Homo sapiens: one gene and its partners. The protein of the gene in region 3 interacts with the protein of the main gene of each other region in a biochemical or structural test. Each region holds a gene or a part of one and is shown on either strand. Other genes may lie near its edges.

Evidence for each region.
Region 1: the proteins of KIT (region 3) and SYK form a complex in vitro, tested with the Homo sapiens proteins (one large-scale study listed by BioGRID and IntAct).
Region 2: of the proteins of KIT (region 3) and PTPRJ, one has a biochemical effect on the other in vitro, tested with the Homo sapiens proteins (one large-scale study listed by IntAct).
Region 4: the proteins of KIT (region 3) and INPP5D form a complex in vitro, tested with the Homo sapiens proteins (one study listed by BioGRID).
Region 5: the proteins of KIT (region 3) and STAT1 form a complex in vitro, tested with the Homo sapiens proteins (one study listed by BioGRID).
Region 6: the proteins of KIT (region 3) and ABL1 form a complex in vitro, tested with the Homo sapiens proteins (one large-scale study listed by BioGRID and IntAct).
Region 7: the proteins of KIT (region 3) and FES form a complex in vitro, tested with the Homo sapiens proteins (one large-scale study listed by BioGRID and IntAct).

Annotation. Positions count from the first base shown.
Region 1 is NC_000009.12:90,843,319-90,846,818, forward strand, and holds part of SYK (tyrosine-protein kinase SYK), read left to right. Parts: intron 1-539; 5' UTR 540-580; coding exon 581-997; intron 998-2,115; coding exon 2,116-2,276; intron 2,277-3,500. UniProt on the Homo sapiens protein: Non-receptor tyrosine kinase which mediates signal transduction downstream of a variety of transmembrane receptors including classical immunoreceptors like the B-cell receptor (BCR).
Region 2 is NC_000011.10:48,130,559-48,134,058, forward strand, and holds part of PTPRJ (receptor-type tyrosine-protein phosphatase eta isoform 1 precursor), read left to right. Parts: coding exon 1-158; intron 159-952; coding exon of another isoform or gene 953-957; exon of another isoform or gene 958-2,162; intron 2,163-3,500. UniProt on the Homo sapiens protein: Tyrosine phosphatase which dephosphorylates or contributes to the dephosphorylation of CTNND1, FLT3, PDGFRB, MET, KDR, LYN, SRC, MAPK1, MAPK3, EGFR, TJP1, OCLN, PIK3R1 and PIK3R2. Plays a role in cell adhesion, migration, proliferation and differentiation.
Region 3 is NC_000004.12:54,730,957-54,734,456, reverse strand, and holds part of KIT (mast/stem cell growth factor receptor Kit isoform 1 precursor), read right to left. Parts: intron 3,130-3,500; coding exon 3,038-3,129; intron 2,587-3,037; coding exon 2,459-2,586; intron 1,388-2,458; coding exon 1,265-1,387; intron 1-1,264. UniProt on the Homo sapiens protein: Tyrosine-protein kinase that acts as a cell-surface receptor for the cytokine KITLG/SCF and plays an essential role in the regulation of cell survival and proliferation, hematopoiesis, stem cell maintenance, gametogenesis, mast cell development, migration and function, and in melanogenesis.
Region 4 is NC_000002.12:233,063,342-233,066,841, forward strand, and holds part of INPP5D (phosphatidylinositol 3,4,5-trisphosphate 5-phosphatase 1), read left to right. Parts: intron 1-3,500. UniProt on the Homo sapiens protein: Phosphatidylinositol (PtdIns) phosphatase that specifically hydrolyzes the 5-phosphate of phosphatidylinositol-3,4,5-trisphosphate (PtdIns(3,4,5)P3) to produce PtdIns(3,4)P2, thereby negatively regulating the PI3K (phosphoinositide 3-kinase) pathways.
Region 5 is NC_000002.12:190,972,672-190,976,171, reverse strand, and holds part of STAT1 (signal transducer and activator of transcription 1-alpha/beta), read left to right. Parts: intron 1-260; coding exon of another isoform or gene 261-284; coding exon 285-360; coding exon of another isoform or gene 361-364; exon of another isoform or gene 365-634; intron 635-1,239; coding exon 1,240-1,342; intron 1,343-3,500. UniProt on the Homo sapiens protein: Signal transducer and transcription activator that mediates cellular responses to interferons (IFNs), cytokine KITLG/SCF and other cytokines and other growth factors.
Region 6 is NC_000009.12:130,852,254-130,855,753, forward strand, and holds part of ABL1 (tyrosine-protein kinase ABL1), read left to right. Parts: intron 1-1,810; coding exon 1,811-1,984; intron 1,985-2,547; coding exon 2,548-2,843; intron 2,844-3,500. UniProt on the Homo sapiens protein: Non-receptor tyrosine-protein kinase that plays a role in many key processes linked to cell growth and survival such as cytoskeleton remodeling in response to extracellular stimuli, cell motility and adhesion, receptor endocytosis, autophagy, DNA damage response and apoptosis.
Region 7 is NC_000015.10:90,891,004-90,894,503, forward strand, and holds part of FES (tyrosine-protein kinase Fes/Fps), read left to right. Parts: coding exon 1-188; intron 189-550; coding exon 551-673; intron 674-1,054; coding exon 1,055-1,108; intron 1,109-1,703; coding exon 1,704-1,822; intron 1,823-2,096; coding exon 2,097-2,191; intron 2,192-2,287; coding exon 2,288-2,411; intron 2,412-2,650; coding exon 2,651-2,808; intron 2,809-2,932; coding exon 2,933-3,055; intron 3,056-3,500. UniProt on the Homo sapiens protein: Tyrosine-protein kinase that acts downstream of cell surface receptors and plays a role in the regulation of the actin cytoskeleton, microtubule assembly, cell attachment and cell spreading.

The DNA of each region.
Region 1 (3,500 bases), on a different chromosome or scaffold from region 3:
TCAGCACCAGCGTGTGACTGACTGCTCGAGGCAGCGTCTCGCAGCTCAGGTGGGTGAGGTGGTGGTAGCGTCCTCCTTGGTAATATCACTGTGATGAGGAGCAAGGCTTCTCTAACATTGTCTGGACTCAGGAGGAGCAGTTGGTTTGTTCTCATGTAGATTCTGCCTCCTGTATGCTGCTGGGACCCTGAGGGTCAGCCCAAGAGTCCTGTTTTGCAATAGCCCTTCTGTTTGCTTCTCTTTGCGGTATGTTTATTTTTAGAATTCTTTGTCTTTCCCCACTCCCCCCAAAAAAGAATTATTTAATTTGGTCACTTCCATCAAATGCTCTGATTTTAGCTTAGTTAGAAGGCATGCTGAAAACTGTAATGATGATGTGAACAGAAAGACAACTGTGTGTTGGGAGGGCCAAAGAGGGAAGTGCCTTTGTTCAGAGATGGGAGGGTTTGTCTCCACTTTGAAAGGGTTTGAGTGGTTTTAGCAAACGTTCCCTGCCACGTGGGGTCCTCACCAAAGTTCTCTGTCTCTGTCTTGCCCAGGTGGACACCTGCGCAGGTGTGTGCCCTCCGGCCCCTGAAGCATGGCCAGCAGCGGCATGGCTGACAGCGCCAACCACCTGCCCTTCTTTTTCGGCAACATCACCCGGGAGGAGGCAGAAGATTACCTGGTCCAGGGGGGCATGAGTGATGGGCTTTATTTGCTGCGCCAGAGCCGCAACTACCTGGGTGGCTTCGCCCTGTCCGTGGCCCACGGGAGGAAGGCACACCACTACACCATCGAGCGGGAGCTGAATGGCACCTACGCCATCGCCGGTGGCAGGACCCATGCCAGCCCCGCCGACCTCTGCCACTACCACTCCCAGGAGTCTGATGGCCTGGTCTGCCTCCTCAAGAAGCCCTTCAACCGGCCCCAAGGGGTGCAGCCCAAGACTGGGCCCTTTGAGGATTTGAAGGAAAACCTCATCAGGGAATATGTGAAGCAGACATGGAACCTGCAGGTGGGCCACAGCTGGTCCTGCTCCCTGGGCCCAGGGGGCCCTGTGACCCCACACAGACTTCCTGGCTACATGCAACACATGTGCCTATGTGCCCTGTGTGCCCAAATAACACAACCATCTCCTTAAGCATCAATTTTGGCCAAAAAATGCCTCTCTCTGATAAGAGCCTTTCCTCTTTCACAGCCACAGCTGAGAGGGTGGGTCCCTTTGTGCCAGCAGTGTGGGTTTCTCCACAGCAGGGAACCACTGTTACCCAGTGCAAGGAGGGCCTTTTCAGAGAGGCATTGATAGGTGTTGATTGGTTTCTGTTTATCTGACAAGGTCCTACCATACACACTGATAGGCACTTGATTTTATGGCTTCCTAATATCTCTTGCAGAACTTTCTGTGTCAACACTCATATAGTTGCATCACCCGTTCTTTGGCTATCTGGTATCACCTGCTATGCACCACAATTTATTTAACTAGTACCTATTGATGGACACATTTGCTGTTTATGAATAAACGCTGCTAACAACATTGCTCTAGACCTATCGTATACTACACTTGTATGCAACGTCTGCAGGATAAACTTTGAAAGGGTTGGGATTGCCACAGCAAAGGATATGTGTGTTTATTTTTTTATTTTTTATTTTTTTGAGACAGAGTCTTGCTCTGTCACCCAGGCTGGAGTGCAGTGGCATGATCTCAGCTCAATGCAACCTCTGGCTCCAAGGTTCAAGCGATTCTACTGCCTCAGCCTCCCAAGTAGCTGGGATTACAGGCATGTGCCACCACACCTGGCTAATTTTTGTATTTTTAGTAGAGATGGGGTTTCACCATGCTGGCCAGGCTGGTCTCGAACTCCTGACCTCAAGTGAACCATCCTCCTTGGCCTCCCAAAATACTGGGATTATAAGCGTGAGCCACCGTGCCCGGCCATGTTATTTTTATTTATACACTTGAAAGTACTTAAGTAATGTGTAAAGGTCTTTCTGGTTTTATTTACTGAATGAATGAGTGAATAAGTTTTGATCCTGTTTTACCATGCCAGGACTCGAGATAGATTGGAAATGCCTTCTGCATCATTTTCATTTTTCCTCGGTATGGTTTACTCTGCTTTGCTCTCCATGTGGCAGGGTCAGGCTCTGGAGCAGGCCATCATCAGTCAGAAGCCTCAGCTGGAGAAGCTGATCGCTACCACAGCCCATGAAAAAATGCCTTGGTTCCATGGAAAAATCTCTCGGGAAGAATCTGAGCAAATTGTCCTGATAGGATCAAAGACAAATGGAAAGTTCCTGTGAGTATCGTGCCTTCCCCCTCACCTCCTGCCACCAGGCCTGTGTGGACAATTGGGAATAATTCAGCTTCCTTGTGACTGGCCCCACATGACCCTGGGAAGAGGCCATGCATTGCCATTTGACAACATGCATGCTGGCCTGTTCTAAAGACATTTCTAACCAAAGCTATCACTTGTGACCCAGTGTTTATTTTGCCCAGTCTAACTCTAAAATGAACACTCTTTTTGGGCACCGAGGGATGTAATATTTAAAGAAAATGTGATTCAGCCCCATATTCTCCTTTTAATGGCAAATTATAGGTTGCATAGCACATTCTGTGGTTATCCAACTAAAATTAAAATACTGCAGTTTTTTTACTCAAACTACCCCCTTGATCTCAGACTTTACTTCTATTTTACATGAAACAAGATGCCAACAGGAAAGATGTTAAGGAAAAGTTCCTGGGAGTAGCATCCATGAGTGGTGAGTGCAGGTTTGAAGACTTCAGCCTTAGGCCCACAGTCATTAGAGGGTCTGTCTGAATCCTGGGTTCTGTTTGCTATCCTCAGTGGTTCAGTGTAAATCTAAATTGTAGAAGGTTCTGAGATACAGGCCAACGTGGTCAGTCAGTTGTCCAGAGAAGGTAAAGAACTGTCTTTGGGAGGTGTCAACCTTGTTCCCTCGAGGGGGTCTGGTCAAGGTGGCTCAGTGGGGCAGTTGTCCCTGGGGGAAATGATCCCCTGGTCACCTCTCAGTGTCCCTACAGAGATGCTTACCTTGGAAACATAACCAGAAACAGCGATGCAGCCTCATGGTTTGGCAATTGGTGAATCCCCAGCCGACTTCGTAAACTTTTCCTAGATTTAGAAGCGTTTTCTCTGCCTGTCCATCTATTCAAAGGAATTTCCTCAGACTTCACTGTCATACCTTGTATTTTAAAAATGATCTTAGCTGAGTGCAGTGGCACGCACCTGTAGTCCCAGCTACTCCTGGCAGGAGGATCGCTTCATCCTCACTATGATCTCACTATCGTTTGAGGCTAGTTTGAGACCAGCCTGGGCAACATAGTGAGGCCCTGTCTCAAAAAAAGAAAAAAAGAAAAGAAAAATTGACCACAATACTCTTAAAAAAAAAAAAAAAAAAGGAAGAAGGAAGAGTGGCCCAGGTTGCCACGCGGCAGTGCCTAGAGTGATGGTCTTTAGTGGGATGCAGCCCCAGCCAGCAGCAGAATGCTGTGGGGAGGG
Region 2 (3,500 bases), on a different chromosome or scaffold from region 3:
CACACAGGAGGGAGCTGGCAATTCTCGGGTAGAAATAACCACCAACCAAAGTATTATCATTGGTGGCTTGTTCCCTGGAACCAAGTATTGCTTTGAAATAGTTCCAAAAGGACCAAATGGGACTGAAGGGGCATCTCGGACAGTTTGCAATAGAACTGGTAAGCAAATAGGCTTTTCTGTTAAACCATCATGTTTCTTAAAGGAAATCAGTATAATTAATAAACATAATGTTTCCAAATATTGTTTTTCTTTTAATTATCTAAGAAAAAACTTTAAAAATTTTCATAACACTAATGCTTATTTATTATATGAAATACAGACAAGTAAGTAGAAAAAACTTACATGGAAACCATCAAGCAGAGATAATCACTTTTGATGTATGACATTTTACAATTTTTAAACATATACATATAGATACACAAATATATGTGTGAGTATACATATATTTAATACATATATATTTAATATTTAATACACACACACACACACACACATATATATATATATATATATTTTTTTTTTTTTTTTTTTTTTTTTTTGAGACAGTCTTACCCTGTCACCCAGGCTGGAGTGCAGTGGCATGATCTTGGCTCACTGCAACCTCCATCTCCTGGGTTCAAGTGAAGCGATTCTTGTGCCTCAGCCTCCTGAGTAATTGGAATTACAGGTGTGCACCACCATGCCTGGCTAATTTTTATAGTTTTAGTAGAGACAGGGTTTCGCCATATTGGCCAGGCTGGTCTTGATCTCCTGATCTCAAATGATCTGCCCACCTCAGCCTCCCAAAGTGCTTGGATTACAGGTGTGCGCCACTGCACCCAGCCCACAAATATATATTTATTTCTTTCACAAACATTGAGGCCATCTGTACATGTGGTTTTGTAATCTGCCTTTTCCCCAACTTGCCAATTAATTATGAATATTCTTTCCTCTTAATAAAATATTTCTACAGGATGATTTGAACACCTGCCTGGAATTCCATCATCTGAAACAGAGTTGGCAGATAAGAATGGCCCCTATGCCAAATTTGGCTCATTGTCTGTTTTTGTAAATAAAGTTTTATTGGATCACAGCCATGTTCATTTGCTTATGTACTGTCTATGGCTACTTTGGTGCTAGAATTGAGTAGTGGCAGCAGAGAACGTGTGGCTTGTGAAGCCTGAGATATTTATTTTCTGGCCATTACAGAGAATGTTTGCTGACCTCTGGGCTAGATCAGTGGTTTTCAAATTGTGGTCCAGGGCTCTCTAGGGATCCCTAGGTTCTTTCAAGGGGTCTCCAAGGTAGTATTATCATAACAATACTAAAATGTTATTTGGCTTTTTCATTCTCATTCTCTTTTGGAGTTTTCCAACTTTGATCCGATATGGGATGACATTGTCTCTCAGGTCTAATGGAATATATGCTGTGGATTCTTACATTTTAAAAATTTCTTCATTTTAAATCCCTGATATAGTAAATATTAATAAATATAACCTATGTAAATACAAATTCTCTGAGAGCCTTAATAACTTTTAAGATGGTAAAGAAGTCCTGAGAGCAAAAAGTTTAAGAACCTCTGGTCAAGATGTGTTAGAAATTAACTACTGTGCTGTGTTGGGCAGGTGGACTGTTCACAGTCTTTCCTAAACAACACTGTGATGAGATACTTTGTTAGTTCTAGAAGGCTAATTGAAATTGATAAAATCATTTTATAGTCAGCTACGGTGGCCTGCACCCATCGTCCCAGCTACTTGAGAGGCTGCGGCAGGAGGATTGCTTGGCCCAACAGTTGCAGACTAGCACCAGCCTGGGAGACCCTGTCTCAAAAAAAAATTTTTTTTTATAGAAACAGTTTAAATTATTAAATTATTTCTAGGCCTACAGGAGAAACTTCTGGGAAATCCTAGAGAGTAATGTTCATTATTGTTGTTTTAAAATTTTGAAATAATTGTTTTTTGGAAAGGTTGAAAAACATACAGTCTTCCTTGATCTAAGATTCAAGATAGTTGAAATCTTTTATACAGAGGGTAGAATAAAGATATACCTAATGTAAATGATGAGTTAATGGGTGCAGCACACCAACATGGCACATGTATACATATGTAACAAACCTGCACGTTGTGCACATGTACCCTAGAACTTAAAGTATAATAAAAACATATATATATATATAAAAGAAATGGGACAGATTCCTTGAAACACACATGAAATGAGTTACGCTTTTGAGATTCTCCTTGAAGAAGCTTCTTCAACTGTGCTGGTTGGGTTAAGCACCGATAGTCACTCAGAGGATCTGCTTCTGAAATAAGGGATCTACTAAAATGCATCCCTCAGATGAAATGCAGTATTCCCTTTGCAAATCTGCATTTCAGACTGTTGACATGACGTCTTAACGTCAACATGTTTCTTCTGTCTTTTAAGGATGTGGATAATGGTAAGAGGATCACCACTGAGGGAGATGCATGATGTTGTGCTACTTGCTATTGCCCAGAACTTACTGTAACAATAATATAATATGCTGGGGGTCTGCGAAGTGCTGAGTGCTCTCATACTGCATTTTACATTTTTAACACAACTTCATGGAGCAGGTATTATTATCATTTCTGTCTTACAGAGTAAGAAATGGGGGCTCTGCAAACTTAAGTAACTGGCCCAGAGTGACAAGGTGGCAAACTGACCTGTGTCTGCTGTCTAAGACCAAGTGCTTAACCACCATGTAGATTGACACTTTGATGTGGTACAGCAGTAAAGTTTAGTATTAGTGAGGAGAGGGCATCTCTTTTACTATAGTTTATTGTGAATATTCTTTCCTCTTAATATCAGTATTTCTACAGGGTAATTTTAACACCTGCCTGGAATTGCATTGTCTCAAAGGACCCGTTTCATTCAATGGTCCCATTGAATGAAAGTCAAGAAGGCTTGCTATAAGATCTAAACTCTTAGGGGGGTTACCTTTCTATTATCAAATAACCTTTATTGTTATTGGAAAAAGTCAGCTTAACAGCATTAAAAGCAATTTCAAAAAAAGGAAACGAATACCATATGATCCAGTAATTCCAGTCCTATGTATATCTCCAAAAGAATTGAAAACAGGCCCCTGGACAGTTATTTGTACATCAGTGTTCATAGTAGTAGCATTGTTCACAGTAGCCAAAGGTGGACCCAAGATCCCATCAACAAATGAATGGATAGATAAAATGTGGTTCATCCATACAACAAAATACTATTCAGCCATAAGAAAGAAAGAAATTCTGATTTATGGTACAACATGGATGGATCTTGAGGACATTATGCTAAGTGAAGCCAGACACAGAAGGACAAATACTGGATGATTCCACTTACATGAGTACCTAGATTAGGCAACTTAATATTCTACAGAAATTAGAATAGAGGTTACCAGGGGCTGTTCAGAGGAGGGAGTGGGCATTATTGTTTAATGGCTACAGTTTATGCTGGGGATAATGACAGTGTTTTGGGTACAGGTAGTGGTGATAGTTACACAACATTGTGAATATTGA
Region 3 (3,500 bases):
AGACATCTATAAAGAATAGTAACAATATGTCTGGCACTGTCATAAGCACTTTACATATATTAACTCATAACTTTCTGAGTCAGGAATCACTATTATTCCCAAGGGGAGAAAAACAAAGATTCAGAGGTATTGGACAACTCTTGACAAAATTACACAGGCATGAAATAATGGAGACAGATTGCAGAATTCATCAAGACTGGGCCTGGAGGCGGCCACCTTCTTCCTCCTCCCTTTGGTCAATATTCAGAGGACTGGATAATTAACGACTTATCATTCTTCCTTCCAAAATTGCACCAGGATGAAGAGAAGTTGTTTTTATTATCACTCCTGATGATAATATCTAGCTTCAGGGCAGCCTTTTCAGAAATTCATGCTTTGGCCAGGAGATAAACACAGAAACACTCTTACAAAACCAAATCGAGTACAGGCTACCAATAGAGACGCCACAGTGATGGGGGGAAAACATTACATTATCATAAGGGGCACAAAAATCCACCTCCAGGAATAAATCTGGACTGCAGAAATGGGCCCAGGAAGACAGGCAGAGAATATTATAAAGGGCAATATGGTTTTCCATGGCGATGGGATGCCACTCTGGAAATCACAGGCTCTAGTTTCAGCCTCTATTGTCCTGTGTCACCTCAGATAAAAAGCACTAAAATATGCCATGCCTTAGTTTCTCCAACTTTTAAAATAGGAAGGTGCTGCAATTATAGGACAAGGGTTTGTTCTGAGGATTCAATAAAAATTGGCAAGGAAATACAGCACTTTGAAAAACATTTGCTATGTTCTACAAACCCATTATTACTTATGAACCTATTTAATAGCTCTCCGTGTATTCTAGGATCCAACATTCTATATGGCTAACTCTGAATATGATCTTAGATTTTAATATTTTTCACACGGCATGCCAATCCCCCCAAAATTTCTCCTGCTGTGACCTTCAATGACCTACATTTGTTACACTTGAGCAAAATCAAGTTCATTGCTATTCTCAGGCTATAATGAAAATTAAGGCTATTTCTGTTTCCTTCACATGCCCCAAAATTACACAATTAGAATTAGGACTTCTATTATTGAATGTTAGTTGTAGTAATGTTCAGCATACCATGCAAATTTTGCTGAAGTATACTTAATTTGACTGCTAAAATGTGTGATATCCCTAGACAGGATTTACATTATGAAAATCACAGGAAACAATTTTTATCGAAAGTTGAAACTAAAAATCCTTTGCAGGACTGTCAAGCAGAGAATGGGTACTCACGTTTCCTTTAACCACATAATTAGAATCATTCTTGATGTCTCTGGCTAGACCAAAATCACAAATCTTTGTGATCCGACCATGAGTAAGGAGGATATTTCTGGCTGCCAAGTCTCTGTGAATACACTATTAGGTTGGAGGAGAAAAGAAAACCATTTAAATTCATTTTAACTTGTAAAGAGTGAAAACTAACTTTTTAATACTATAGTGTTGCTTATATTATAAAAAATCCAATACTTTTGTTTTAAAGTATTCAGTACACCAAAAATAAAAATCAAAAGTACGCCTTGAATGATGTTCACATAATCAAGAGTCTAATTATTATAATCTCTTTTAAAAGCAATTCTAATAAATGCTGTTTTCTTCTCAGGACTGCTTTCATTCATAGGGAAATACATAAGAAATAGTCATATCATATTGTTTAAACTGAAAATTCATTTTGCATGCATCTCTTTGAATGTCCTTTCACAGAGTTCCTAATATGCCTTTGCAAATTCAATCTGACATCTCCCAAGGACACACGGAAGAAGGTCTTTATTTCAGCCATCTTATATCCTTTCTTAGTTTGGTAATTGTTGGGAAATGTCACCCATGACATTTAAGGGTAGGACTGGTAACTCATTCTGTTCGGTTAATCTTACTTCCTAAGGAACTCCTTTCACCCTTCCACAGACCATGCTCCTTGTTTTGGTTCCATCATTCTTTCCATTCCTAACCTTCTCCCAAGTGTTTATTACTCCCTCTGACCCCTTATTTCCTGACACTTCATAAGCCACACATATAATATTTGGATCTAACTTCAATAAAACTCAAGTCTATGCTTCACCCCAAGCCTTGTAACTATGAGGTGCCCTCTGCTTTTACTGATAAAATGATTCTGTTCTCTAGGAACATATCCTATATCCTAAAAGCCAAAAGTTTTAAAAGAATTTCACTGCATATAAAAGAATATTCATAGAAAAACTCATTTAGACAGGCTTGTACTTTACAGCTTATAAATTAGAACAGGAATTCCAAAGAGACAGCAGTTGGAACATGAAGAAACTAAATTTCCTCTGCTTTTGGTTACCACACTTCAAAATGACATTCTGCATTTTAACTATGGCTCTAAAATGCTCTGTTCTCAAAAAAAAAAAAAAAAAAAAAAAAATCAAAAAAACAAAACACAAAACTCTTTAGAGAATCACTCCCACTTACATTCTTGGAGGCGAGGAAAGCCATGCCCTTTGCCACCTGGTAAGAAAAGCTCAGCAAGTCTTCTAAGTCTAGGGCCAACTCGTCATCCTCCATGATGGCGGGAGTCACATCTCTTTCTATGTATGAGCCTGTGAGGAAGAGAGGATTTTTCTTAGCAATTACAACCATAAAGGTCAGGAAAGGAAAAGACAGTGGCAATGACATACCAAAGGCTGGTAATGAATGAACTAATGTGAACTTGCAGGCAGATCACTTCCCTGGTGTCCAGGAAAGGTAGATGCTGAATCACAAAGTTAATATTTAACAATCCTAGGCTGGGTTACAAAATCCATAGAGGAGAGGGATGGCGAATTAAAGCAAAGATCCCATATCTATAGAAAGATACTCAGGCACAAAAACATATGCTCTGACCCCAAACACCCACTTGCAACCCTAACTGCCATTGACCATTGGCACTGCTACCATAAAGCAGAACTGGTCTGCATCATTGCTACTGGGAATGATGTTATATTCCACATTAGCATGATATACATACTCTCTGTAAAGTTACTCTTGGTTGCTTGATAGGTAGGTACTCACCTATTCTCACAGATCTCCTTTTGTCGGCCTTGGTTGGGACAACATAAGAAACTCCAGGTTTCATGTCCATGTACTCATTAGTACTATCGCTGCTGGGAGAGATGAAACAAGTCATGACTGAATCAAGTGGGACATGTAGAAGGGCACTCATGGGTCATGCTCTACCTCCTCATCCCCTTTGCTACATAATAGACTGGACCAATTTGAGGAAAGTCATGTAAAGTTTGAATAAAGAGTTTGAAAATCCTGTTCTGTAAGAAATGAGTTTTTAATAATCGATATTGGGGTCCATGCCCAGAAACTAGGTGTCCTTTTTGTGTATAATCATATAGAGGACTCAGGTTAGAAATTTCCCGTCTCTTGACACAATGAATTTAATGGGAGACAGAGAGCCAAATATGGTATCCCGTATTACCTCAAACTCTCTAAATGAGCCCCAGGAGACAAGATGAAAGAAAGACAA
Region 4 (3,500 bases), on a different chromosome or scaffold from region 3:
CAGCACTCCCTCCCAGGCCCCCTCTGGTGGGCAAGGGGACAACGGCCGGAGTCTCCACCTGATGGTTTGGGCAAGTGTGCCTGGAGTCTCAGGAACTGAGAGCAGCCTCACCAGGGAGGGGCCTTTGTGCTCAGGAAAGAGAACAGGATTTGACTATGTAAATGGACTTGAGCGGGGGTTGGACATCAAAAGACAGGGCTACAGTTCAGTGCCACCCATGTGACTTAGGAGTGCACATTCTGCGCACACCCAGCAAACCCTGCATTTCCTCGAGAGAGGTCAGCCCCGTCACCTACCACTGGGCAGGAAAGCTTTGATCTCACCTCAGCAGCTTGGAAAGCCCTGCTTGACAGGGAGCCTGGGCTCCATCTCGGGGCACAGACAGTTGCAGTGGGAAGACTCCAGCAGGTGGCTGCCTGGTTTGGGTCCAACTCTGCCGTCTTTCAGCCAGGGGCTCTTCTAAGTAGAGCCTATGTTGTCCCCACCTGGTCCCCACTCAAATCCCCCGGCAGAGTTGGCCCTGCTCCGGGGGGAGTCTGTGGGTGCCTCCAGGGGACGTTGGGTACATCGTGGGTGGGAGACATTAAGAGCTGTCAGGCTCATGCCCTCTCCTGCCACGCAGGGGCCAGCACACCTGGCAGGGCCTTATGCTGCAAAGAAGAGATGCCTTGGGAATGGGGTCAGTCAATGCAAGGGTCCATGGGTTGGCCGAGCCGGCATCCCCTTGTGCAATCTGCACAGGCAAAGCTGATCAAAGGCCCAATGTCAGTATATAGGCTGCCCTCTCTGCAGGAGCAGCTGGGGCCCGGGATCAGGCCTAGAGTGGCCGGCTCAGCTGTCTGCCATCCAGCCTGGAGTTGCGCAGGAGGGCGGCGTTCCCAGCCAACCACTCCAGAGAGAGGGGGCTTCCCTCATGGGGGAGGCGAAGGCACGTGGCTGCCTTTGGCTCAGAACCCAGTGCCTGGTCTGGCCACAGCTGACAGTGTGGTTTTGGTTTCCCTCCACATGTGGCCTTCCACAGGCCACCCAGGCACCATGGCAGGGTCTTGCTTACCCCTTCCCAGGGGCAGTGTAGACAGTGCACCGGACAGACCTGGCTTCACCAGCAGAAGGTTGTTACCAACCTGCTCCGCCTAATAACAGCAGGCAACTTCCAAAGAGCTCTGTGCCAGGCACCATTCTAGGCTTATATTGACTCATTTGATGTCCACGAAGACCTTCAAAGGAGGTCTTATTATCTCCACTTTACAGATGGGGAAACCGAGGTGCAGAGCGGTTTATGGAACAGGCCTAGTTTACAGGACTAACAAATAAAAGGGCCAGGATTGCATGCATGATCTTCCTGGAAGCGAGAAACAGAGACCATAAGGTGGCCTGTGTGGGGCGGGGCAGAGCCTGGAGAGGGAACTTCTCGTGATGGAGCCGCAGAGAAGGGACTTGGGAGGGCGAAACTCCTAATCTCAGAGAGTCCAACAGAGTTGGAAAGCTGTGGTGTGAGCGGGTGGCTAAGTCTCCCTTTCGAAGCTTCAGTAAAATAGACACTGTTAATTGTTTTTGTGCAAATGCAATAAGGCACTATTTTTCATATCTGATATTGACAGTCAGTGGGAAAAAATGCTGGCCCAGGTCGTAGCCAGAGCTACTGACATCTGGCTCACACCAGAAAGCCGGCCAAGGGGCTTTATCCAAGGCTGACTGTGCCGGGTTTTCTCTCTGCATGCAAGACCAGGAAGGGGTATGTGCCCTGGAAGGCCTATGTATTTCACTCACTAACTGTATCTTCCATGTGAAGTGACGCAGAGCAAGCATGTTAAAATGGAGTCTCCAGGTTTTCTGTGCCTACGCTCAGCCCCCGTGAAAAGTCCTTTCGGGTCCAGAGATTAGGCTCCAGCTTTGATGCTTTGCATGTTTGTCTACCTGGTAGGTTAAATTCATAAATTCATGAACACAATCAGCACTTCTTGGGTTTTTTTTTTTTTTTTTTTTGACAGAGTCTTGCTCTGTCGCCAAGGCTGGAGTGCAGTGGTGCAATCTTGGTTCACTGCAACCTCCGCCTCCCAGGATTAAGCAATTCTCCTACTTCAGCCCTCCAAGCAGCTGGGATTACAGGTGCCTGCCACCACACCGGGCTAATTTTTTTTTTGTGTTATCCTCAGGTGATCTGGCCTCTTTAGCCTCCCAAAGTGCTGAGATTACAGGCATGAACCACTGCACCCAGCCTTTTTCTTTCTTTCTTTCCTTCTTTCTTTCTTTCTTTCTTTCTTTCTTTCTTTCTTTCTTTCTTTCTTTCTTTCTTTCTTTCTTTCTTTCTTTTTTTTTTTTTGAGACAGAGTCTCGCTCTGTCGCCCAGGCTAAAGTGCCATAGCATGATCTTGGCTCACTGCAACCTCCACCTCCAGGATTCAAGCAATTCTTCTGCCTCAGCCTCCTGAGTAGCTGGGATTACAGGTACCCACCACCATACCTGGCTAATTTTTGTATTTTTAGTAGCGATGGGGTTTCACCATGTTGGCTAGGCTGGTCTCAAACTCCTGACCTCGTGATCCACCTGCCTCGGCCTCCCAAAGTGCTGGGATTACAGGTGTGAGCCACCGCACCTGGCCTTTTTTTAAAATTATTATTATTTTATTTTTTATTTTTGAGACACGGTCTTTCGCTGTTGCCCAGGTTGGAGTGCAGTGGCACAATCACAGCTCACTGCAGCCTTGCTTGATCAAGCGATCCTCCTGCCTCAGTTTCCCGAGTAGCTGGTATTCCAGGTGCAAGTCACCAAGCCTGGCTAATCTTTTTTATGTAGAGACAGGGTTTTGCTATGTTGCCCAGGCTGGCCCCCAACTCCTGGAGTCAGGTGGTTCTCCCACCTTGGCCTCCCGAAGTGCTGGCATTACAAGTGTGAGCCGCTGCACGCAGCCTCACATCAGCACCTCTCAATCAATTGGTGCCATCTCCCTGCACATGAACCCTTGCGTCATGATGACATGTGGTCCTCACAGCCAGGCATTTCTCCCCACCCCAGACATAGAGTGAGAGGAGCTCTGCTCTTCCCTCAATAATTCGTGCCATGCTGTGCACTCCTGAGGAGCAAGGCTCTGTGGTCTGCTGGCTCTGCTGGGCTGCATTTGCAAAATGCTAACCTTCCTGTGTCAACCCAGCATCTTCACAGGTGGAATGAGGATGACAAGGCCAAAGCCCACTCGTTGGGTTATTTTTTCAAATTGAGGTATAATTCATATTCCATACAGTCACCCTTTCTATGGTGTACAATTCTTAATTTTCTTTTTTTCCAAGACAGTCTTGCTCTGTTGCCCAGGCTGGAGTGCAGTGGCATGATCTCGGCGCACTGCAACCTCTGTCTCCCGGGTTGAAGTGATTCTCCTGCCTCAGGCTCCTGAGTAGCTGGGATTACAGGCGCATGCCACCATGCCCGGCTAATTTTTTTTTTTCTTTTTGAGACAGAGTCTCATCTCACCCCTGTTGCCCAGGCTGGAATGCAATGGTGT
Region 5 (3,500 bases), on a different chromosome or scaffold from region 3:
CAGACTTCTTGTAAGATTTCAAGTTGTGTAAAGAGAAAGCTCCTAGCTAGTGTCCTGCTGAACACTAGCTTATTTCCAGACTGAATTCAGATCCTTCTTCTCGTTGTTTCTGCATTCCCACTAGAATTTTAGGTGACTCAGGCAGGGAGGTTATAGCTCCTTAAAGTTTTAGGAGGCTAAGCTGTCTAGAAACACAGTAGAACTTTAATCCCCCCGAAAAGTTGATGTTGTATTCTGATGGAATTTCGGTTGATGGAAAGCGTACACAATGTGTTTATTTCTAGCACCAGAGCCAATGGAACTTGATGGCCCTAAAGGAACTGGATATATCAAGACTGAGTTGATTTCTGTGTCTGAAGTGTAAGTGAACACAGAAGAGTGACATGTTTACAAACCTCAAGCCAGCCTTGCTCCTGGCTGGGGCCTGTTGAAGATGCTTGTATTTTACTTTTCCATTGTAATTGCTATCGCCATCACAGCTGAACTTGTTGAGATCCCCGTGTTACTGCCTATCAGCATTTTACTACTTTAAAAAAAAAAAAAAAGCCAAAAACCAAATTTGTATTTAAGGTATATAAATTTTCCCAAAACTGATACCCTTTGAAAAAGTATAAATAAAATGAGCAAAAGTTGATCAGAGTGGGAAAGTAGTTCTTTTCAATCTAGAAAAGGCCAAAGTAATGATTGAGATACACTGTCTCCACTTGCTTTGATTTTGTTGTTTCATTTTATAAAAGGTAGAAAAAATTTTGGAAATGTCATTGTCAGTTATTTGGCCTGCAGCACTGTCTTGGGGTGAATGGATGTAGCCTTCATGTAAAAACACTGTGTGGAGCAGCTTTATCTGCATTCAAACCTCAAGGTAGGGATGAGGGACTCCCCAGACATTTCTCTGGTGCTTTTCTGTCCAGGGTAAGCCACGAGGCATTGTCATCTCAGGGTAGTGCACCGCACATGCTCACACCTAGGCTTACCCAGGCAGAAGCGGCACAGATTCCAGTCTGGCTATTGCTTATCACATCCCTGGAGTGTGAAACATTTCCCAAGGGGCTGGGCTGGGGACATGAGCCTCCCATGAGCTGTACTTTTGCAAATGTATTTTACAAGTGTATGCACTTACCCAAAATAAAAATATAACGTGATAATTCAATTACAGACAAAAGATAAAGTGTGTAAGTATGCACTAGTGCTTTCATCACTCAGATGTTGACATTGCTCTTTTCTTTTTCCCCATTTTAGTCACCCTTCTAGACTTCAGACCACAGACAACCTGCTCCCCATGTCTCCTGAGGAGTTTGACGAGGTGTCTCGGATAGTGGGCTCTGTAGAATTCGACAGTATGGTGAGTACCACGGCTGGCCTGTGTGTAGCTCTCAATAAGTGTGTGTGCTCAGAGGCAGGGAGCGCACCATGGCAGATCCCGGGCCTGTCTGCGGGAGGGAGCCCTGGCGGAGCCAAGGAGAGTGCAGTGCTCAGATGAGCCATGACAAGTTGGAGCTGCTGGATTTAAACCACCTACATCATCAGTGGGATTTTTATTCCTCGCATTCAGCACCTTCCAAAAAACAAGTGACATTTCTAATATTCAGGTTTCCTCCTCTCCCCTTTAAAGTTGTCCATGTAGAAATTTCATATATTAAGGAACTAAGATTTCTTTGATAAGCAAATGTTTTTCTTCGGAATGCGATTTCATCACTGTGTCTAGGGGAGGGAGTGTTATTTTTAGAAAGGGAGGGACTAACGCTTGGTAGTTACAGTAATTAGAGAGAATTATACTTTAGCAGCAATGAGATTACTTCATCTGCCTTATATTTGAGAGCTAATTTGTACAAGTAGCTCCTGGGGCTGTGAAGGGCTTGCCAAGAGTAAAAGGTTCAAGGAGTGAAATAGTTAATGAGATTCGTGATAGAAATGGGAATATGATTGTCCACAAAAGGGAACATCTTCCTTTTGGAGGGTGCTTTTTTAGTATATCAACTAGTATTGTTTGCCTTTCAGCCTAAAATCCTTCCTCTTAAAGATTGTGCTTGCTTGGCTGGATTTTTGCTGATGCTGTTTAATTTTAAGCTCTTTTCCACATGGAGCTATTCCAGCTCATTTTTAAAAATTTATTTAATGCTTCCAAAAAATATCCTGAGTTATTACTGGCCTTTCTTCCTTACTGTATACCCGGTGCCTGGCAAAAAGTAGGTGCTCAACAAAGAGAGGAAGGCAGGGAGGGGAAAGGTGAGCGAGAATGAGAGGGCGTCACTCTTCAGACATTTGGGGAATGCGATGATAAGGCCTCAGTAAGATCTGCCTGGATTCAGGTTTCTCATGTGTAATTTTTTGACTTTTTTCCTCACCTTAAGCACGGGCTACAATCATTAGAGATTGTACCTTCCTACACTTTCCTGATTGTTGTTGACGAAATAGGCCATTTAGAAAAACAGTTAGCTATTGTGGCAGCGAAATAGTTTCATTCCTATTGGCAAGTGTAAAATGAACCTTTTCTGCATGTAAGAAGGATCCTGCTAGAGTTTCGCTCCCAACACTGCTATAGGCCTGGCACAAAAATGGAATAAATATAAAGCCCTATTCAGAAAATATGTTACATCACAGGAACTGTAAAATGGGGGGATTTTTTATACCTCCTTTGTTGTTCCTGAGCAAATTACATCATCATCACCACCACCATTAATAGGTGACATTAAGCACCTACAGTATACCATGTACTTCACAGGTAGTAACTCATTCAGTCCTCACAGCCACCTTCTGAGTTAGGTGTTATTGTTATTCCTACTTTGACAGATGTGGGAACAGAGCCCCTCCTCCCCACACAGCCCCTTTTATGTAACTTGACTAAGATCAAGCAGTTAGTAAATGGTAGAAAGAATATTTGAATCTACCTAGTGAGTCTCTAGTGCATGCTTTTGTCCGGTATCCTGGAAAGCCTCCCACAAAAAGCTAATCTTTGCCCCATTCAAAACATGCACCCTGAAGAAGCTGTTTGTACAGGATTGGGTTTATTCTGTTATTAAGACAAAGGCATCATGGCCTTTGGGTGAGAGGCCCGTATGTGTTTGGGATTTGGCAATCAGCATTCCATCTCTGTCATCACCATTATTGAGAAAATAGATGGATTGGTTCCCTCTCTGCAGTCCTGTGGAGCAGTTGGACTGCTCTCTCTGCTCTCAGGATGATACTGTGAGAACAATTTAAATATGCTAAGCACATGTCAGGAAACAGTTTTGTGGTCTTTGGACACTCGCTGTAGCCATTCCGTTCCATTTCAGGTGATTTTATTCATTTCATTTGTAGAATAAAATAAATCCATTTCACACACACACACACACACACACACACACACACACACCCTCTATACACCACTAAAGCCTCCCATTAAACCCATAGAAGACTTAAAGAGCTAAAAGAGGCTATAATATAAAAAAAAAAAAAGAAAAGAAAAGAAAAAGAGTTCATAATATAGGCACGGCACTGGTTAGACAACGGTTGAATCA
Region 6 (3,500 bases), on a different chromosome or scaffold from region 3:
ATCTCAGCTCACTGCAACCTCCGCCTCCCAGACTCAAGCGATTCTCCTACCTCAGCCTCCTGAGTAGCTGGGACTAGTAGCTGGAACTACAGGCGCCCGCCACCATGCCCGGCTAGTTTTTTCTATTTTAGTAGTGACGGGGTTTCACCGTGTTGCCCAGGTTGGTTTTGAACTCCTGAGCTCAGGCTCAGGCAATCTGCCTGCCTCAGCCTCCCAATGTTCTAGGGTTACAGGCATGAGCTACTGTGCCTGGCCCAGTTAGTGATTTTTAAATTGTAGTTCCTTAAATGAGTATTTTGGATTTCACTCCACAATGTTCTTCAACTGTAAGATCTACTTGAGGTTATTTGATTTGCTGGTTTGCAAGAACTCGTCTACACGTTGTCTTTATCACAAAGAAATTCTGGAGCGTTTGAGCCCTGTTCAAAAAAAAAAGGCAAGAAGAAACTTCAGGAACAAATAACCTATTTGACCCTGTAATGAATAATATTCACACATTTTCTAATTTAAGAGCTGTTGATTGATTTCCAACTTTTAGAATCTGTTTCAGACAAAACATGGAAGTTTAGTAACAGTTTTTTCTATTCTGTAATAATAATTGCCACAAGGTTAAAAAAAAAAATTTACAGAAGAACATATTTGAGGGTGGTCGTGGGGGCAAGAAAGCTGGAAGGACGGGTGGGGTGTGTTAATAGCCTTGTCTTGTGAAGTAAGTCCTCAGAGACGCTGTCCTAGTTGGAAGAACAGGCAGTGAAGGTGTGCGTCTGTTACGGAGAATAGGACTCCAGTGATCTAGCTGGTACTTAGAGAGGTGGGGGTGATCACCAAAAAAACAGCTCTGCCTCTGGGAGCGGAGAGGACTGGGATAGAAAGTATTTGTCTTTCATTTTAAGCCCTTCTGTACGATTTGACTTTTCTTTTTTTTTTTTTTTTTTTTTTTGAGATGGAGTCTCACTCTGTCACCCAGGCTGGAGTACAGTGGCACGATCTTGGCTCACTGCAACCTCCGCCTCCCAGGTTCAAGCAATTCTCCTGCCTCAGCCTCCCAAGTAGCTGGGACTACAGGCACCTGCCACCATGCCCGGCTGATTTTTGTATTTGTAGTAAAGACAGGATTTCACTGTGTTGGTCAGGTTGGTCTTGAACTCCTGACCTCATGATCCACCCCCGGCTTTTTTTTTTGACACGGAGTTTCTCGTTACCCAGGCTGGAGTGCAGTGGCGCAATCTCTGCTCACTGAGACCTCCACCTCCTGGGTTCAAGCGATTCTCCTGCCTCAGCCTCCTGAGTAGCTGGGACTACAGGTGTGCGTCACCATGCCCGGCTAATTTTTGTATGTCTAATGGAGACAGGGTTTCACCATGTTGGTCAAGTTGGTCTCAAACTCCTGAACTCAGGTGATCCACCCACCTTGGCCTCCCAAAGTGCTGGGATTACGGGCGTGAGCCACCATGCCCGGCTAAAGCAAGAAATTTTCATTGCATATTTTAAGCAAAGGCAAATGCATATGTGGATAGACTGTTTTAATTTGACTAAAGTCATATTGAATCCATGAATTTTAGAAGCTCAAACTATTGGGGAACAATAATTACCACCTTGGAGTGAAAATACTTAATTTCCACAAGATTTAGTAAAGGAAGAGTTTTTTAAAAACCACCTTAATGATAATAGTATGTACAGATGTTAAGAAATGAAATAGGAATGTGTAATGTTGGAAACACAAATATTTTTGCTTCTGAGAATAAAACTAATTTTTTCTCCCAATTTTCTCTTCCTTTTTCTTTTTTCTGTTCCCCCCTTTCTCTTCCAGAAGCCCTTCAGCGGCCAGTAGCATCTGACTTTGAGCCTCAGGGTCTGAGTGAAGCCGCTCGTTGGAACTCCAAGGAAAACCTTCTCGCTGGACCCAGTGAAAATGACCCCAACCTTTTCGTTGCACTGTATGATTTTGTGGCCAGTGGAGATAACACTCTAAGCATAACTAAAGGTAAAAGGGTTGTGGGCAGCTAGTGGTGGTTGCAGGAGATAGAAATCTGGGAATTGCGGTTTGACCTACCACCCTTTGCTCGTTAAAGGAGCAGCTTTGAAATCTGGACTGCAGGGATATCCAAAACAACAACTGCATGTTTCTAAGGGAGTCGACTCTCCTTAGAGGAGTTCTTGTACAATAGCCCTGGGCAAAAACAGAACTTGCCCTATTTTTTATACTGAAAAGGACAGCTGGACAAAATACTGAACGCAATTTTTCCCCTAAGAAAAAGCATTATTTCCCTAAAATGTCTTATATTAGGAACAGAGCACTTGAATAAACATAATTGATTTATAAAAACTGAGGCTATACACTTACCTATCTGTTCAGTACAAACAGGAAGCTTCAAATGTAAACGTGAATTCTCATACACTTATAAATGCATATCTTTATGTGGACTTGTTAAAATGAAATTGGTATTTAGGAATTTGGAGATTTTTAGTAGTTACACAAGAATCAATGAAAAAGAACGAAGCTGGTTTCCAAAGCTGATATGTCTGATTTGGTTCCTTTCTTCTCAGGTGAAAAGCTCCGGGTCTTAGGCTATAATCACAATGGGGAATGGTGTGAAGCCCAAACCAAAAATGGCCAAGGCTGGGTCCCAAGCAACTACATCACGCCAGTCAACAGTCTGGAGAAACACTCCTGGTACCATGGGCCTGTGTCCCGCAATGCCGCTGAGTATCTGCTGAGCAGCGGGATCAATGGCAGCTTCTTGGTGCGTGAGAGTGAGAGCAGTCCTGGCCAGAGGTCCATCTCGCTGAGATACGAAGGGAGGGTGTACCATTACAGGATCAACACTGCTTCTGATGGCAAGGTAGGGGACCCTTGGCAGGGGGCGCTGATGGGCCCAGGGCAGGGGAACCAGAGGTCCTGCTGTCGGATTGATAAATTATTGCAAGAAAGCTCAACCAAGAAGATGTTTAAAGAATCTTTCAGGTGGGAGTCATTCCATTAGCCTTATGAAGACCCTTTATTGAGGATCCGTTCTGTGATATTACAAGTTCCTGGGACTGGTATGATTCTCTTATTGTCTTGCTAGAGTTTTGTTGTTAGCAAGTTACTTAAAATAGGAGGAATATCTGTTGGGTTTTGGACACATTTTTTACAATAAGATTCTTCCTTTAAAAAAAATATTTTATAATGATAGAAATCATCCCCAACGAGAAAAATTCAAATAATAGATAACCTTTCTTAGAGCGAAAGACCACTTTACTATCCCCTCCCCCACAGACGCCTGGCACGTGGGCTTCTTCCTGCGGATGAACACATTCATGGAGAGGTGTGTGGACATACGTGCATACACGCATGCAGTTTTCAGTGAAAACCGGGATCAAACCCACAGCTTACCAAACCCAAAGTGTGGTGTTGTAAGGGAGGTGGCCTATATGATTTTGTGGTCTTCATATAAATAATCCTTAAGAGTCCATAAAGAGAAGGGAGGAGTTAACATTGACTGAGGTATTGCTATAAT
Region 7 (3,500 bases), on a different chromosome or scaffold from region 3:
TTCCGGAGGTGCAGAAGCCCCTGCATGAGCAGCTGTGGTACCACGGGGCCATCCCGAGGGCAGAGGTGGCTGAGCTGCTGGTGCACTCTGGGGACTTCCTGGTGCGGGAGAGCCAGGGCAAGCAGGAGTACGTGCTGTCGGTGCTGTGGGATGGTCTGCCCCGGCACTTCATCATCCAGTCCTTGGATGTGAGTGGGGCTGGGACCCGAGCCTTCCAGGCCTCACTCTTCCCCTCCCTTCCCTTCCCCAAGGGAAATGGCCTTTCAGGGTAGGGGGTAGCTGCCAGGTCTTGGATGCCTCCCTAGCAGGGCTGGCTGGAAGGGGCCACAGAGACCACCCTGTCCCTGCAACAAAATAGAGGCTTAAGTGTGAGTCCTCCCCTGGTGGGGCAGCAGGATGTCATGTGCCATCAGATGGCATCTTTTCTGGAGGTCTCTCTGCCCCTGGTCCTGGGCAGGCCCTTTCTCCCCTGCTGCTCTCCCTTTCCCCCTCCCAGGGCTCACGCCCCCTCAGAATGGAGGCTGCTGACCCCGGGTCCCCTGCCCTGCAGAACCTGTACCGACTGGAAGGGGAAGGCTTTCCTAGCATTCCTTTGCTCATCGACCACCTACTGAGCACCCAGCAGCCCCTCACCAAGAAGAGTGGTGTTGTCCTGCACAGGGCTGTGCCCAAGGTGAGCCTGCACCCAGCCTGGCCCATGCCACCTGTGGCAGGGCTTGGGGAGTGTGGGTCAGGCCCACCCAGCGTCTGAGCAGAAAGGGCTTTCCAGGCCCTCCGTCTACATACAAGATGCAGAGTGAGTGACCCTCAGGGCCAGCCTTGCTCTAGGTTTGGAATGTCAGGGCCACTCCTATGCCATGGGCTGTACACACCAGGTTGGTGCTTACCTGGTCAGGGCACCTGCCTGGACCCCGTAGTCATCTCAGTGTGCTCCCCACGTGGTCCCACCCCTGGTCACATATGGAGGCGCCAAAAAATGGAGGACACAGCCCTTCTAAGGGCCCAGCACCCCTTTTCTTCAGACTTCTGATCCCCTGTCTCCTCTCTTCCCCAGGACAAGTGGGTGCTGAACCATGAGGACCTGGTGTTGGGTGAGCAGATTGGACGGGTGAGTGCGCCTCTGCTGGCCTCCTTGTCGCTGGCGACTTCTCCTGAGTCGCGCCTGGGCCCCCTGCCCTACCACCCAGAGACCTCCCTGCCCCATCTGATTCCCCACTTGTACCCCGACTCCCTGCCCAGCCCCCACCACACACCATCCTCCAGGAAACGGGACAGTACCTACCCTGAAAACTCCCAGCAGACAGCTCTGCCAGCACCCTGACCTCATCACCCCCACCCAGGCCGCCCCCATCGAGCTCTTGTGTGCACGCAGGGAGACACCCTGTTACTGTAAGCCATAAGATACCTGTTTAGGGAAGAAGTCACTGTCCTAAAAATCAGAATGCTTTTCAAACCCAAGGGAGAGTGATTTTTGGATTTCCATGTCACTTCTCTCAGGAAGGGTGGCACATCGGAGGCAACTTTCCCTGCCTGCCCCATGTGCTCTCTAGGTTCCCCAGCGAGGGTCAAACTCCCAGAGAGCCTGGGTGAGGGGTCCGAACACGGGGGCCCCTCACCCAGGGGTAGGAAGCAGAATGGGTAGGAAGCGGAGAAGAGAACTGCGGGACTGGGAAGGCCGTGGTAGGAGCCCAAGACCGTTTCAGGGGAACTTTGGCGAAGTGTTCAGCGGACGCCTGCGAGCCGACAACACCCTGGTGGCGGTGAAGTCTTGTCGAGAGACGCTCCCACCTGACCTCAAGGCCAAGTTTCTACAGGAAGCGAGGTGGGTGATAAACTAATGATCACCACGGGTCCCGCATACACAGAGGTTACACTGCATGGCACAGTGTGAAGTGCTTGACCACCGTGGTGGTGTTTAGTCCTCGAGGCCCCCCATTGCGGGTAGTACCCCCTTATAGTGCCGAAGGGTAGAGGCTGCCCCAGGTCACACGTCCGGGTCTGCTGGCCTTGGAGGCCAAGCTCTTCTCCCATCATCCCTGGGGGGCCCTGGGGAGGCGGGCCTGGCCACGTAGATCCTGAGCAGCAGTGCCCTCCAGGATCCTGAAGCAGTACAGCCACCCCAACATCGTGCGTCTCATTGGTGTCTGCACCCAGAAGCAGCCCATCTACATCGTCATGGAGCTTGTGCAGGGTGAGCGCGGGGCGCTGAGCTCCAGGTAGGGCGCGCAGCCTGGTCAGGTGGCAGCCTTACCTCAGGAGGCTCAGCAGGGGTCCTCCCCACCTGCAGGGGGCGACTTCCTGACCTTCCTCCGCACGGAGGGGGCCCGCCTGCGGGTGAAGACTCTGCTGCAGATGGTGGGGGATGCAGCTGCTGGCATGGAGTACCTGGAGAGCAAGTGCTGCATCCACCGGTGAGTGGGCGGTGGCCACGGGCCCTGCCAACACCCCCGACCAGAGTCAAGAGGTACCTATACCCCTAGGGCCCCCCGCTGGACCATCAGGCATCAGCTCCAGAGGGGGAGTTGGCCTCTGTGGTAGACAGGGGTGCCCAGGGCCGGGAGCAGCTTTTGTCCTTGGCTTTCCTAGAGTGTTCAGCCAGGGCTGGGCAGGCGACTGTTGGCCAAATGAGCCCCTGCCCTGTCTCACCCAGGGACCTGGCTGCTCGGAACTGCCTGGTGACAGAGAAGAATGTCCTGAAGATCAGTGACTTTGGGATGTCCCGAGAGGAAGCCGATGGGGTCTATGCAGCCTCAGGGGGCCTCAGACAAGTCCCCGTGAAGTGGACCGCACCTGAGGCCCTTAACTACGGTACCTAGTCCCTGTCTACCCTGGACTCCATGGCCAGAGGCCAGGCCTGGGTCCTGCCGGCTGCCTCGCCCTGGCCCCAGGGAGGGTGCACTCACGCTGCCTCACCTCCTCGCCTCCTCTGCAGGCCGCTACTCCTCCGAAAGCGACGTGTGGAGCTTTGGCATCTTGCTCTGGGAGACCTTCAGCCTGGGGGCCTCCCCCTATCCCAACCTCAGCAATCAGCAGACACGGGAGTTTGTGGAGAAGGGTAAGCACCCTGTGATGACAGCAGCCTCAGGCTGCACCCTCTTCCAGATGCTCCAGCCGGACTCTTCTAACTCCCTTAATGCCAACCTTCCCACCAGGCAGAATAAGAATAACCTGGCCAGTTGCTCACGCCTGTCATCCCAGCACTTTGGGAGGCTGAGCTGGGTGGATCACTTGAGCCCAGGAGTTCAAGATCAGCTTGGACAACACAGTGAAACTCCATCTGTACAAAAAATACAAAAATAGACTGGGCACGGTGGCTCACACCTGTAATCCCAGCACTTTGGGAGGCCGAGGCAGGTGGATCACCTGTGGTCAGGAGTTTGAGACCAGCCAGACCAACATGGTGAAACCCCATCTCTACTAAAAATACAAAAATTAGCCAGGCATGGTGGCACGTGCCTGTAATCCCAGCTACTTGGGAGGCTGAGGTGGGAGAATTGCTT